3 separate regions of the Homo sapiens genome follow, and regions 1 and 3 are each reported to be linked to region 2. The links are microRNA targets in miRTarBase. Many come from high-throughput screens and were not tested one by one. Region 2 holds a microRNA gene; each other region holds the end of a gene's coding sequence.

Region 1 (3,354 bases), not on the chromosome of region 2:
AAGAGTGAACAGATGAATCCCACACACACTCCGTCTCTCTCCATCCCCTGCAACCCCAGCAGTCATATGCACCCTTGCCTTCCCTCCCGACTCCCGGATCACTGATCTTCGATGTCACTGGGTCCTTCTTTTCCCTCAGCCTGAACCACTGTGATTGGGTCAATGTGTTTTGTCTCCATTTAGGGACCTATCAGTGAGCAGAATTTTGAAGCATATGTAAATACACTCACAGATATGTACAGCAATCTGGAACGGGACTATTCCCCGGAATGCAAAGCTCTACTGGAAAGTATCAAACAGGCAGTGAAGGGTATCCATGTGTAGGATCACAGCGCTGCCGGGCAACAGAAGTTACCAACAGCAGTAAACTCCAGATGGATCTGTTAGAGGTTCATGTACTGCTAAGGCGTGGAGGTTGCCGTACTGCATTTACAATTTGCAACATTGCACTAATTTTATTTTCCCCAGCTGATATAAAAAGGAAAGAAAAACTATGATAGACTTCTTGGATTAAAAGCAATGCAGTCAATTATTAGATCTTATTTATTTTCATATGTTTTTCTTTTATTTCTTCATTGTACTCTTTTTTTTTTTGTAAAGTATATGTAAAATAAATGTGACATTTTTATAATTTATTTATTACTAATCAAAGAGTTTTTTATCTTTTAACTGCATTTTGAAGTCTGCCGTATTTTTACAAGTGTGTTTATTAATTTATTTTCCAATAGGATTTAAATAGAAATGCTATTCTCAAGTCATCTTTCTTGCTGGGTTTTAATGAGGAAACAGGAAAGGGTGAAGGAAATCCTTGTCTAAGGACTGCACTATAGTTGAGTTTGATTTTTATTGCACACTTCTTCCCCCACCTTTCACTGATTTTTGTATTTATAAATGAATTTGCGGTAAGGTGAGCTGCACGGAAGGAATAAGAAGACAAATGGCGCCCACTAGTGGGGAATCCGCACTCACAAAAGCACAGGATGCTGGAAAACAGCCTGCTCAGAATTTGTTAGCAATAATTAAATATAGCAATCAGCAAAGTATTCGACTTGGCTGGACGGTTTTCGTTAATATGAATTATTTATTTGAAATGTTTTAAAGAAACATAAGCCTTTTTAGTGATGCAGATTTGTCTGTTTGTTTTTCAAGTCATATCAGATCGTTGGCAACTCGTATCCCAAGATGAAAAATAAGACTTGGTGTGACCAGCCAGGCTTTCCTGCCATATGTTGGTACAATATACAAGTGACAATATTGGTGTAGATTTGTACTTAGCAAATACAAACACATCCAAATGAAAAATTTTGTAGATACCATATCCCCTGAAATAGCATTTATCTTACTGGGTTGACTGGAAAGGAATGGAAAATATAGTAACACATGAAAAAATGCTACTCCAATCTGAATGATTACTTCAAACACTGGCACCTTGGGTCTCACCCACCATAGGAAACAAGACAACATTCAATTTGATAGAAATCTTGCCACAAAACTTCAAATGCTACAAAATATACACACACACTCACACACACAGGCATACTCACACACAGACACACACACACACACACACACAGACTCATCCACACTTCAAATTGAGCCCACAATCTTGAATTTCTGAACGGATCAGAGTTTCATAGTTTCTATAGTAAAGGCAATGTCTATTTCAGGGATTGTAAAGTAGTTAAGCATTGTTTCAAAAGTTTTTTTATATTTATTTTTTTTAAGGAAAAGGTATAGACAACCAGCTAAACTGCCTTTTTGGTGTGCACACACATTTCATGTGCAGACGTGCCTCTGTGTAAATGTACACATGAACTTCATGTGGGCTTAATTTTCTGTGCTATAAACAAAAGTGTTTATTTTTTATTAACCTCATGGATATTTAGATGGAAAGTGATGGCATTCACAGGCTTGATGTATTCCACTGTTATTACTGTTACCTGCACAAATGAAAAACAATACTCAACAGTAATTCCACTCCCATGAAACTTTGGTCATTGTTATGCATTAAGTGGGGCTTATCTTTGGTTTGGAGTTCATTTGAACTCTTGAACCTTAGTTTAGTGAAGATGAACTGTCTGTTCTTAGGTAGAAACGGTGTTTATTTAAAAATCAGTTTTAAAAAATGAGCTACCATATGTGCTGTCTATTATAAATGGGACACCAAACAAAATTTTCTATTACAGTTGTGTACTTGCAAACATTTTGCTATACAGTACTTCATAGATGCATACAAATGAGCTCACTTATTACAAAGACAAACGTTTAATTTGCTAAATATTTTAACAAGTTTGTTATATATTTTATTTAATTTAAAAGAAATCTCTTACCAACCTACATATTTATTACTATAATTTGCTATGACTTCAGGTTAATTTATTTGTGTTTGCATAGTTTGAGCAGGATGTTTTGTGAAGTATGTTTGTATTTATTTGCCTACTTTGTACTTGATGTGTTTTGTAATGTGCACTGAATTTGTTTTCTTTTCAACTATGTTAATGATCAATACTGTAAATTGGGTCTTTTGTAAACAAAAAGGCAATGATGTATGCATTTTTTTTAATTTGAGGTAGTTTGTTTGTATACTGTTTCTCCAAACACTTAATATTTCTTACATCAAAGCAACAAAATTGTGTTCAGTGCTGTACATTTGGTGTATGGTAGGAAATAAAAATTGATAACGAGTTTTGATGTGATCTTTCTCAGGCTGTTATCTGGAGACTAGTATCCCCTTCCCATGGAATCCACTGTCCAGAACGAGCCCTGGTGAGGTCCCCAGAGTGCACTTGAGCCTGCCAGTCATTCGGAGACATTTCTGTTCTGACAGCCGGTTTGCTTGCCTTAAAGTGGACAGGACTTTTGGCCAGTTGACAAGCTGTCACTGCCTTTGATGTGGCATTCACCTCCAGAACAGGGAATGCTTTGACATAAGGAACACCTTTGCTAGCAGTAGCAGCAAATTCACTCAGATCTAATAAGTGGCAAGATAGAGGGCCCACCCTCCTGATTCCAAAATTACTTTGGATACGGAGTATATCTCTAGATTCATATAAGCTAAAATTAAAGAAACTTGAATTAAAGAAAAACAATAATAAATTACTGATAGCACCTCTTCTGCTTATGTGTTCTTTCTATCTAATGTCAAATAGTCAGCCTAATTTAATTTTTCAGTTTCTGTCCAGATTCATACATCTCTAGAATAAGTTTCCACTTACATTTGATCTGGTTAAAAAAAAATCTATTTAACCCATGTAATGAAGCCAAATTGACCGAAGGGAAGTCTGGGTCCAAAGAGGAAAGCCAGAGTTGTACTTGGGAGACCTTCATTTACCAGGAGCCAAAACATAACCATTA
Region 2 (3,354 bases):
ATCATTCAGAGGTGTAACAAACGTAGTACCATGATGAACTAGTAAGACGACATGTTCTGGGAATGGCTTGCACCTGCCTGTTGTGCATATGTGTGTCCATGTGTGGACAGGCATGCTTTTAAGTGGAATTGTGTATCTGATGTTTACGTATCTAAATAATGTATATATAATTTGGTCCAGATTTTCTATTACCTCATAGTTTTATTATTCCAATGAGAACTTTATAAGAAGCCCTCTGATATCCTCATCTCCACAGTAGTCAGGGACTTCAGGGTTCCTCTTCCCACCCCCACCCCCAGAAGACATACCAAGATTTTCAGATTAATGCTTCCCCTAATTCTAGAGTATTTTGGAGAATATCTCTCTGGAGAAGCAATAAGGATCAGTGGTTTGAGCTACGACTTTGAAAGCAGACATGTAAAGAGGTTTGAATCCCAGCTTTACGACATGCTATCTGACCTTGGTTAACCACTGAAAATCTCCCTAGCCTCAGTTTCAGTGTCTGAGATAATGAGCCTGACACCATCCTTGATATCTGTGTCCTGGGGACCTGGAGGAATTAATGAGCTGATGCCATAAAATACCGATCCTGGGTTGAAGGGCCTCTCCTGTGAGGTCTTTCTGTTGCAGTGCGTCTTTGTTAGCAGGCTTTTCCCACGTGTCGGGGCTTCTTTCAGGCCCTCATTTTAGTGTTATCACCACATTAGTGCCTATTTCACTTATTTTTGAAAACCTGAAAATATCATACATACTGATGGAAATTTCATTGAATATTAATGAACACTCAGAACTGTACCTGCAACAGAAAGCGAAATTGGCTAAATATTACTCATCCAATCATTTATCTGAAAGATGGTGTCATTTTCCAATCCTAAAAATATAATAATTAATGTGAAATTTCAGGTTTAAAGTACAGTTTTAAAATATCAAGCAAGCATCATGTCAAAAATGAAATTTTATTAAAGGAGCTATTCTAGACGATTAAGAAATGAAAACTTAGAGTTCTAGGGGAAAAATTCAGAACCACGTTTAATTTTATACTTGGAAGCGCGCTACAAATGACAAGGTAATTTTTATATGTATATTTATAGATTTAATTAGCAGTTATTCCATTATATCTTTCATATAACTATAAATGGAAAATGATTTCAGACAAGAGGCTCTCATCTTCAAGAATTATTGTTGGTAAAGTTATGGGAGAGCTGATTTCTCAGTCACTATAAGCAGAGAGAGAGAGAGAGAGAGAGGTGTGTGTGTGTAAAGGTCATTACCTGTCACCTAATATGAATTCTTTCATTAAAAAATACTTTCTATAACTTTTCTCATTTTCTCATCCATGTTTTGCACTTGAGACTATTTAGAAGGCACCATGACTTGTTCAAGGCGTATACCCAGCCCAGCTCAGGATTACGATACAGAGTTCTAACTCTGCCCCCTCAGCCCAGCTCAGGATTACGATTCAGAATTCTAACTCTCCCCACACAGCACGGGAAGTCCTGCATACCCTGCTGATCTGTGGGTGTCACATAGCCTTGAGGCTCATAAAGGTCTTTGCTTCTCCTTCCTGCTTTTACGTTTCAGTGAATATTGAGGCACTGGGTAGTGGATGATGGAGACTCGGTACCCACTGCTGAGGGTGGGGACCAAGTCTGCGTCATCCTCTCCTCAGTGCCTCAAACGGTCTGGGAGCCAATGTTCAACAAACGAGCATGCGGGTGAGTAAAACACAACCAGCTGTAAGACGTGCTGTTCAAAAGGGCGGGCTGGGAGGGTGGCCGGGACACCAGTCACGGATGTCTTCTGTGAGCAAGAGCTCTTTCATCTGGGACCTGGTGATGAGTAAGGTGACGTGAAGGGAGAGTGGGGGAGGGCAGGTGGCCTGGGGAGTGCTAACGAGCTTGGTGTGTTCTGGAACTGAAAGAAGACAGAGATTGTTTTCCCGCTCCATGTGGAGAGAACCAGTTGCCCACTAATTTACAAAAGGAAAGTCGGACAGTAATCTCTCATCAGCGTGGCTATCAATGAGACCTGGAGCTTCCAGGAAAATTTGGCTTAATAAGTACCATACTGTTACTTCCTCGGGAATATTAAAAAGGAAGGAGCGATGAGACAGAAGGGCCTAATTCACCCTGCCGTGGACCACGTCTGACTTGGCCTGCTAACAAAGCATGTTTAGGCAGTAGGGAGAGAACCGAGGGGAGATGGACGTCTCTACATGGAAATATTTTCTGAATGTGAATTTTAGTATCCCTGTTTCCTGTCTTCCTTCAAAGATGAAAAGGAATCCATGTATAAAACAGGTAGTCACATGAGCATATGTAAAGTTTGGTTAAGCAAATTCAAGGACTTTTTCTACTTACCTAGGGCCAGTATATTCTGTGGACATTGATAACCCATAGTTTCAACTGTAACCTCACATTGATCCCCAGTTTTCAGAGAAAGAGGACACCATCTACTTCTGGTCACTGGCATTTTAGGTGAAATCCTGCAGTGATTGTTTACTGGTAGCCTAATTAGGTACGTTATCCATTATTTAACCCAAAATCCAGGTTAAAATATGACATCAGTGACTTTAGCTAGACCATAACTACACACGTTTACTTCCTGGAGTCATTAAACTGCTTAAAGAAAACAAAATCCCAGCACACCCTTGTTTTGTTAAGGTAACAAAATGAGCTCGTATCAAACATAAATACAGGTTTAAATTACTGTAAAATTTTTTTGTGGACTCAAACACAAACATCACAGCAAAGCTTACCTGTGACCCAATTAGGATCATCATGAAAACATAAATCCCAGTTCTACTCAAGTAATACCAATGGCCTGGTACCAATGGCTTCCAGCAGGCCACTGGGGTTTGACTGCCAACTAGGAAAAGCCCCTGCCTCTGGGGGATAGATGATGGGGAAATCATTCCATCCATCTCAGTGCTGAGCTCTCACATGCTCTTCTGCTTTTCTGTAAATTGACCTAAAATGGCCATCTTTGATGGTCTCTCACTTTCCCTCTAAATCCCTGATGTGAGAATGTATTGGAATTATTTCATGTAACAGTGTGTCTGCCCACAGACCGGCCTCCTGGCTCCAGCTTAGCAGTGTCCAACAGTAAAAATAGAAAAGCCCCTGAGTCTTGTCTTCTTTTGAGAGGAAAGAACCCTTTTGCAGAAGGCCCAGGAACCCCCTCCTCTAGCCACTTTGGCCAGAGTTGTGGTATGCAATTATTCCTAAGCTGTTCACTGGACAGGTAGCTGGGCCCCACCACAACTGCCTAACGTCAAGCAAGATTGATGCCTGGGGGCTGTGCTGGGAAGAGGCCCGCTTCAGGGGGAAATTGGGGCTGTGTTGAGAAGGAAGG
Region 3 (3,000 bases), not on the chromosome of region 2:
TTTTCTGAGGGAAGAGTGAAGAAGTAGGGATCGATCCCAAGCAGAGTGGGTGTGGTGTGGGGCACAGTGGAACCCAGGTCCTGGGGAAGGCAGGATTTTGAGAAGGGCAATGGAGAGCAAGTTACTAGGGTCAGAATATTGTTTTCAGAGAAGAAAGGCAATCTGCAAGGAGCCTAACTGACCCTGTGTTCTTCCAGGTGGCTGCATTGATGACACCATCCTCAGCAGGCAGGGCTTTATCAACTACTCCAAGCTCCCCAGCCTGCCCCTGGTGCAGGGGGAGCTTGTAGGAGGCCTCACCTGCCTCACAGCCCAGACCCACTCCCTGCTCCAGCACCAGCCCCTCCAGCTGACCACCCTGTTGGACCAGTACATCAGAGAGCAACGCGAGAAGGATTCTGTCATGTCGGCCAATGGGAAGCCAGATCCTGACACTGTTCCGGACTCGTAGCCAGCCTGTTTAGCCAGCCCTGCGCATAAATACACTCTGCGTTATTGGCTGTGCTCTCCTCAATGGGACATGTGGAAGAACTTGGGGTCGGGGAGTGTGTTTGTCACTTGGTTTTCACTAGTAATGATATTGTCAGGTATAGGGCCACTTGGAGATGCAGAGGATTCCATTTCAGATGTCAGTCACCGGCTTCGTCCTTAGTTTTCCCAACTTGGGACGTGATAGGAGCAAAGTCTCTCCATTCTCCAGGTCCAAGGCAGAGATCCTGAAAAGATAGGGCTATTGTCCCCTGCCTCCTTGGTCACTGCCTCTTGCTGCACGGGCTCCTGAGCCCACCCCCTTGGGGCACAACCTGCCACTGCCACAGTAGCTCAACCAAGCAGTTGTGCTGAGAATGGCACCTGGTGAGAGCCTGCTGTGTGCCAGGCTTTGTGCTGAGTGCTGTACATGTATTAGTTCCTTTACTGCTGACCACATTGTACCCATTTCACAGAGAAGGAGCAGAGAAATTAAGTGGCTTGCTCAAGGTCATGCAGTTAGTAAGTGGCAGAACAGGGACTTGAACCAAGCCCTCTGCTCTGAAGACCGCGTCCTGAATTTCTTCACTAGAGCTTCCTCATCAGGTTACCCAGAAGTGGGTCCCATCCACCATCCAGGTGTGCTTGGATGTTAGTTCTCCACCCTCGAGGTGTACGCTGTGAAAAGTTTGGGAGCACTGCTTTATAATAAAATGAAATATATTCTACTTCCTTTATTTTGTGGTTTACACGGTTGTCCTCCCTCTAAACTTACTCTCAGGGGCTTCTCTGTCATCTGACTTTCCTCACTCTTGCTTCCCTTCCTAGGAAAATCCTCTTCCCCTATACCTGTTCCCACAAATGGCATCCCGCGCATGCTTGCCCTATTAAAGGCAGCTGACAGCTGTACCCACTAGCTAACGTGTCTCTGGTGGTTCTGGACAAAAGGCCTGCGGGAAAACTAGGATTCTCTATTAATGGGGAATTCTGAGAGCTCTAGGGTAGGAGGCCTCATGCAAGTCTTCATGAACCAGAAATTCCTAATAAAGGAGACGGGATGCTTAACTCAGAGTCCACCATCATCCTTGACTGGAGCACATTCTGGGTGGATGCAGGGGTGACCCGGGGAAGGTGGCTGTTCAACATTCCTTCTCGGACTTGAAGCAATGCCACCGCTTCCTTAGTCTTGGACAGGCACTGTCTGGCAGGGATGACCTGCAGCAGCTCTTTTGTGGCCTGGGCCAGGACCAGCTTCCCCCAGTGCCTCATCCTGTGCTGTATGCCCAGGGATGTTCAATCACTGGGAAGTGGCTTAAAAGGCCCTTGAGGCTCCTGGATGCCAGAGCTTGTCTGGTCAGTGCTGCCCAGTGCTCCTGTCCCTCCCAGAACCCTGCCAGGTGCTAACAACACCCTCCTCCTGGGGTGGCTGGAGCAGCACTGAGGCTCTGAATAAAGGCAAGACAGTGGGTGTTCCCGAGAGATATGTGAGACCCTGAAACGTAAACCAAGCTCGGTGAGGATGAAGTGGAAGGGATAAGTGGCCCATGTCACTTTTGGGGTCAGAGAAGAAACTTGAATCACATCCTTCACCTGAGGCCCCACCTACTTCTTTCCAGAAAACTTAGCTGCGCTTGAAACTGTAGGTCTATGCCACATTCATTTGAATGAATTTTAGATCTTTGTTAAGAGCCGATTTTTCATTAGAATTGAGCAGCTGGGCACAGTACTCCAGCAGAAGGGTAAAGGGAAGGGAGGGGACCAGCATTGCAGCCCTTTTAACGGCAGCTGTGACTGCCCCAGGCCTGCTCCTGATCAGAGACTGCAGGCTGTGGGGTGTCTTCATACACACAAGCACTTTCAGATCTCCATGGGGCCTGACCTAGTGGGGCATCACCCCAGTGAAGGGCCTCAGTGTGGGGACTGCTGGCTGTCCCTTTCCTGGCTTGACTGCCCCTGCTGACTGTGCTCTTGGCACTCTCTTATGGTCCCAGAGGGGGCATCTGTCCCTCCACCATCAACCTGATACTTTTGCTGGCTCCAAATTTTGCAGTCTATTTTCAGATGTAAAATGAGAGGCGGGGGGCGGGGGTTAATTAGGAATTGGCCTTGGGTACTAACAGGGTCACTGCCATGCTAGTCTGAATAAATCCTTTATCACCACTGGCGTACAGCCAACAGTTCCCCAGTCCTCTGATCTATCTGGAACCATGCCCAGCAGGGACTGTGCCCCCACTCCCAAGCCACATCGATGCTAGGGCAGTCTGCTCAGCCCTGAGTCCTCCGGGGAGCAGGGGGGCAGAGCTGAGCGGCTGCCCGGAGCTTGGCGGGAGGAGGGGACAGGGGAGAGGGAGGTGGGGAGATCCGGCTAGAGGGGAGGCTCTGACATCTCCTTCCTTCCTGGTTCCTGCAGCAGCTGCTGCCACTGCTCAGCGCGGTGAGGAGGGAGCCGGTGACTCGGAGACGGTGACTCAGAGGCAGAGCGGCGCAAGGGCCAAGGAGTACTGGCGTCCATGGACCCTGGGGTAAGGGGGC

What was found. The annotated mature microRNA hsa-miR-3691-5p reads AGUGGAUGAUGGAGACUCGGUAC and lies in region 2 at 1,602-1,624, shown strand. An mRNA with a match to its seed (bases 2 to 7 or 8) in the 3' UTR can be bound and repressed. Matches are read on the target gene's strand: a 7mer-m8 pairs with bases 2 to 8, a 7mer-A1 pairs with bases 2 to 7 and ends in A, and an 8mer does both.
Region 1: the mRNA of ST18 is a reported target of hsa-miR-3691-5p. Seed matches in the 3' UTR shown: 8mer at 1,578-1,585.
Region 3: the mRNA of MRPL10 is a reported target of hsa-miR-3691-5p. Seed matches in the 3' UTR shown: 7mer-m8 at 1,094-1,100.

What each region holds. Positions count from the first base shown.
Region 1 is chr8:52,110,168-52,113,521 of GRCh38, reverse strand. ST18 (ST18 C2H2C-type zinc finger transcription factor) reads left to right here. Exons shown (of 26, transcript NM_001352837.2): 26 at 184-2,684. The coding sequence ends at 324. Among named protein-coding and RNA genes, the nearest start is that of ST18-AS3, 83 kb to the left of the region's middle.
Region 2 is chr6:5,146,556-5,149,909 of GRCh38, reverse strand. MIR3691 (microRNA 3691) reads left to right here and starts at 1,588; the gene lies at 1,588-1,677. All of the region lies in intron 2 of LYRM4 (LYR motif containing 4), which reads left to right. All of the region lies in intron 3 of LYRM4-AS1 (LYRM4 antisense RNA 1), which reads right to left.
Region 3 is chr17:47,821,656-47,824,655 of GRCh38, reverse strand. MRPL10 (mitochondrial ribosomal protein L10) reads left to right here. Exons shown (of 5, transcript NM_145255.4): 5 at 198-1,384. The coding sequence ends at 451. It overlaps OSBPL7 (oxysterol binding protein like 7), which reads left to right and starts at 2,862. Exons shown (of 23, transcript NM_145798.3): 1 at 2,862-2,990. RefSeq lists an enhancer at 2,404-2,573 and a silencer at 2,684-2,899.